Regions from separate parts of the Homo sapiens genome. Here region 2 is linked to region 1. The links come from fine-mapping of genetic effects on gene expression. Tissue or cell type: whole blood. Region 1 holds a variant in brackets; the other region holds the start of a gene. All regions are shown on one strand. Distances are from middle to middle.

The links. PIP is the estimated chance that this variant, and not a neighbour inherited with it, causes the effect.
Region 2: AKR1C8 starts here. The variant in region 1 is fine-mapped to the expression of AKR1C8 in whole blood (TOPMed, PIP above 0.99). The same link has a PIP of 0.9 or more in blood mononuclear cells and lung.

Annotation. Positions count from the first base shown.
Region 1 is chr10:5,262,955-5,265,643 of GRCh38, reverse strand. No RefSeq gene overlaps it. Among named protein-coding and RNA genes, the nearest start is that of LINC02561, 6.9 kb to the left of the region's middle. The variant C/T (reference allele first, on the strand shown) is at 1,604.
Region 2 is chr10:5,183,939-5,186,627 of GRCh38, reverse strand. It overlaps AKR1C8 (aldo-keto reductase family 1 member C8), which reads left to right and starts at 1,478. Exons shown (of 9, transcript NM_001395972.1): 1 at 1,478-1,616. The coding sequence starts at 1,524.

The DNA of each region.
Region 1 (2,689 bases):
GTGCTTTTAAAGTCCTTGTGACATTGAGTTACAGGGCTTTGACTCCTGGATCTATAAAGGACACCAAGTCCTGCTACATCTTAAACACTGACAACAATTAAAGCCTCATCTTCAGGCGCAGTAGAAGATGCCAATCAAAATAAATTGCATTCCTGAGACATAGGGCCAGAAATAAAAGCTATTCAACTCCTCAAGGCCCCAGGACTATTGTGGAAGAGGTGGGTGTGTGAGATTGAAAGGGCCAATTTTGAGAGACAAAATAAGTTCAATTTCTCTGTAAATTAATCATTAATGTCAAAGGCACACTGATGCAAGACAAGAATATGGCCCCCTGTGACAGATTAACAAGGTTTTAGTGAAGCATTAACTGACTCCTTAATAAAGGTTATAAAGGTTATAAAAGGCTTAAGAAAGTTATATCCTATTGTCAAGATTAAAAGTTCATAAATTGTTAATAAAATTTTGAAAAACAGATTTAATTGGTATCACACTGTTTTTATTAGGGCTTATAGTTTGGAAAATTAAGTCTTCTCTCTCAAAGAAAAAAGGTTTTTGCCTTTTTTTGGAATCCTTGTGTTATCACTTTGGTTAAATGAATGACTTATTTTACAATGACCTGTAATATCAAGTGTTTTAAACCATTGATATTTGACAAACTTTCCAAATCAAATTATAAATTATTTCTTTTTCAGACCTAATTAATCCTTTAAGATATTAGGTTCCCTAAAATCTAAAAATGAAATTTGGCTCACTTGGTGTAAAAATTATACAGGAAGTATTGTCAAACATGAAATGGTGTTTGGTTATCTTTGGGCTGTATTTGTATAAATATGTAATTGGCATGTGTTCCAAAATTATGGGAAACTCATATAACTCTGATATAACTTAGTATACATTATCAGTAATAATCATTGTCATGTTAAATTATGGTGTGCCACAGAGGTAACAAATTTCCCTGTCAATTGTGTTTTTGACTATGGCTGCTCTAAAACTTTTTGTCATCCACAGACAATTGTTTCTTGTTTTGCTCCTCTTTAGAAGGTGGTTTATAGAACTATAATACTCTAACAGGTGCTCTTGAATGCAGGTTTCTGATAACTTTGAAGACTGTGACATCAGAATAGAGGAAAAACTTTGAAAACTCATGGAGAGCTGAAATGTTCATGAATATCAAGCAGAGCAGGAATTAGCTGCATGAACTGAACTAATAGAAGACTGAAGTAATCTTTTTGACTTTTTGCTTAAAACATTGCTGATCCTTTGTTCTGTATTTTTCAGAGTCAAGGAAGCTTTTCTTTTGAGCTATTGGCAGCTTTTAACAATTTAGTATACTCCCGTGAACAAAATTTGGAGCTTATTTCTTTCTCTCTACCTGATTTCTCCAGAATTTGGAAACTATTTATTAGTATTCTTAACTTATGGCAATACAGTTATTTGCATAAGTGCAATAAGAATATGTTTTTATTTGAAACAGGACACAATTGGAGAAACTGGTTATTTTACCAAGGCTTTGACTGGCACGCTGTGCTTTCTTTCAGGAATCAAACTTGACTTATGGAGACAATAAAAGCCCCTTGGGAAAACTGGCCTCATACTTTGTCTA[C/T]GCAGTGCCTGTACAGGGTTCCTGATCTGTGGTAAGTAAAAAATGTAACTTTCTGACAGGTCCAGGAGCCCCAAGTTTATCTTGGGATCTCAAGAGGAGAGAAATTCACCCACGCATAGGTGTTTGATGGTACAAATCCATGGCTGGGTTTCACTTCAAAAAAATATTATCTGAGATTCCTTCTGTGGAACAAAGTTCCATCAAAGCCAATTTAAAAGCCTATGTAAAAAAATAATTATTCTTGCTGTACTGTATACAAATAATCAGGCCAAGTATAATAAAGCAAATCAGTCCTACCATGATTTGTCTTTAGTAAAAATGGGAAATTGGAGAGAGAAAAAATTATGTTTCAAAAACTATAGTACACCTGTTGTTAGGTTCTAGTCTTGCTTAATGTTTTTAAATTTTTATTATTTTCTACAGTTTGGTCCGAATTCTAATTTTTCTTGGCTAAAATTCTGGGCATGACTGTTGAAAACAGGAGTGTGCAACTAAAGGAAAGCCAAGAAGCAGGGTGGGGGCAGGAGATGGAGGATCACTAGGACAAAGTGCCCAGGGTAAGGGGCATTCTGACTCAACCAACCTAACAGGATTCCTGTAGAAGGCAGCTCAGGGTGGCCACAAATTCCTTGGGGATGGTGAGGGACAAAGAACCTGGCCAGATATTGAAGCTGAGGGTGATTGATAGACATCAAGGGTGGGGGATTCTGGCTGAATTGAGGTAACAGGATTCTTGCTAAAACTGGGGTCTTGGGACACACCCCAAAATGGGGCCTCACTGAAAAAGGAGCCCAGAGGAGCCTGACTAGGGTTTGGGCAAGAAGAGAGTCCTTGTCACCAGAGAATGTTGTCTAAACACCATCCCATGAAGAAAAGGACAGCGGCCCAGCATTCTCTCTGCTTCCTGGCCCAAGTCCTCATCTTACTTGCGTTGACCTGATGATCTCCATGCTGTCCTCACACCCAGAGCAGAGGTGACAAGACTGTGTGGCCTTGTTTCTCCTTCAGCACAGCTGAGATGAACTAAAATCCACCGAAGGAACTTGAAGTTAGCACAAGTACAGGGACTAAGAATCCTAGAAAAGA
Region 2 (2,689 bases), 79 kb after region 1:
CACCCAGGGAGGTTATAGAAGAAGTCATCTTCTCTTTTTATAGTATTTCATAATGTGATAATTAAATCTATTACTTAAAATTTGAAAAAAATAAAAAAAAAGATGAAGAGGTGTTTTTAGCAATAACTGGTTACCCTGCTGATTATTTCAAAGTCTGTTATGTTATGTTATTTTATTTTATTTTTTTGAGAAGGAGTCTTGCTCTGTCACCCAGGCTGGAGTGCAGTGGTGCAATCTTGGCTCACTGCAAGCTCCGCCTCCCGGGTTCATGCCATTCTCCTGCCTCAGCCTCTTGAGTAGCTGCGATTACAGGTGCCCACCACCACGCCCGGCTAATTTTTTGTATTTTTAGTGGAGACAGGGTTTCACCGTGTTAGCCAGGATGGTCTCGACCTCCTGACCTCATGATCCGCCCACCTCAGCCTCCCAAAGTGCTGGGATTACAGGCATGAGGCACTGCACCCTGCCCAAAGTCAGTTATTTCGAACCATTTAAGGTATTAACCTTGGTCCAGACCTGTTGTCCTCACCTACAGAGGATGAAAGTGTCCAAAGTGAATTATGCAGAAGGCCATTTAGGCTGAGCCTCTTGGCATCTGAATTGGAAGCCATTTTTAATTTTCATTTTTCTCATGGTTGCTGTGTGTGTGTTTATGTTTGCAAAAGCAATTTAGGCCCTGGAATTCCAAGCTGTTCTGTTAAGACCCAGGCTGCTTTGCTATCTCCTATCTTTGTTCAAAACAAACAAACAAAAAACAACAATAAAAAGAAGGAGTCATAAAGGATGTTAGACTGTAGGAGGTGCTTTTAGGATAAGTAAAAGATAAGAAACCCGCTGGAGACCAGGAGGGAGTTAAGCAGGCTGTTCTAAAAAGAGACAATGGCTGGAACAAAGGCAAGAGCATAGAAATGTATCCATGATCTCAGACAAGTTTTTTCTGCAAAACATTCAAGGAAACAAGTCAGAGAAAATGGAGTGTGGCTTGACACAGGAGGGAAATATACTGGGAATAGGGGTGGGTGTTCTTAAGAAATTTCATTACATGCATGGCTGGCACTAGGCCTCAAGCGTTATTCAAGGAATTCTAATAAGCTGTTTTAAAGGGATTAACAATCAAATATAAGTGAGAAAGTTAACTTCAGTTCTGTAGTAGAATTAGTGTTTTGAAATGACCACCCTAATAATAACTTTGCCTCTTGTAAAGGAAGTCTAGTGTACTTATCAAGGACAAATTGGTGTGGTTCATTTTTCAACTAAGGAATCAAGTGTGAACAACACGGAGGAGAAAATCAAAGTCCTCTGGCATTCACAGCATTTCTGAGTGAGTTTTCTGTAAAATACTCCCACAGAGACATAAGAATCAGAGAAAAGGCACTGGACTGATTCCAGTTTCATTTTGAAATCATTGGCAGCTGTCATCTCCATCCCGCCCATCCTGCATTTGGTGCAAATAAAGAACGCAGGAGCCTTGTCTCCTACTGGGCTGTCAGTGAGGAAAAGGAGGAAAGACAGGTTAGCTGGGGATGATGACGGATCTGAAGCAAAGCCATTCAGTGAGGCTGAATGATGGACCCTTCATGCCAGTGCTGGGATTTGGCACTTATGCTCCTGATCATGTAAGTGGACCCCAGGAGGCTGAAGTTTCTTAGGTCAGCTGTACTTGCAGGGCAGTCATCAGGCAAGAGCCCTGCACTTGGGTAGACAGTGGATGCTTGGAAGGGCTCATCTGGGATTTCATTTAACTGTCTCTAACTTGCTCCTCTCAAGGTCACAGAGATCTTTTTTGCTTTAAGTGGCATGGCAAGTTATTGATTGTGGGGATTCTGAGATTGATAATTTTGTGGGTATATTATCTTTATTTCTATTAAAAGTATCAATGTTACCTAATATATCAAATGCTTTCCATGTATTTTAGGTGTTTTACATGCATTATCTTATTTAATTCCTTAACAACTGGCCTAGGTAAGTACTCATTAAAATTTGTTACGTTTTAAAAATGCAAGCTCAGACTGTTCTCATCTTTTGCTCTGGTCAGAGCCACTCTACTCTTGGTTAGAAATGTGAAGGGCCAAGGACCCAGGAGGAATCAAAAGCCAAAATGAATACTTAGTGGCAGCTTTGCTGTGAGGTTATTGGGGCTGGAAGTATTTGCCAGAGAGTTTCAACCATCCAAACTTTTTGCTATATAAGAAGCCACTGCGATTCTGTTACAGTCTCATCAATGTATTAAAAATATAGTAGTCTTTCATTTTGAGGGATTATCTGAAGTTTTTTGTCTTATGACTGAGAAAATTAAGGACTGTGGACACAAAGGGTAAGGTTGGAGTGAAAGTTTAATAAGTGAAAGAAGGAAGATTTTCTCGAGTAGAGAGGGGGCCTGGATGGATTGTTAACTATGAGGTCAGGTCTAGGGTTTTGATGGACTGGGAAAGAAAAGAATTTGTTGACTGGTCTTGGAGAAAGTGTAACTCAGCTTGTCCTGGGACCTTGGTCTGGGACCAATCAGGAGTTGAAGTGATAGCTTGGCCTGGGACCTTGGCCCAGGAGCAGTCAGATGCTGAATGATAATTCATAAAGGCTCATCTCACGGTCCACATGTCCACAAAAGGAAAGGAAAGTGCCCACCAGAGCCCACTGGAGCCCACCATATACATGCCCACAAAAGAAAAAGAGACTTTCCTAGAAGTCT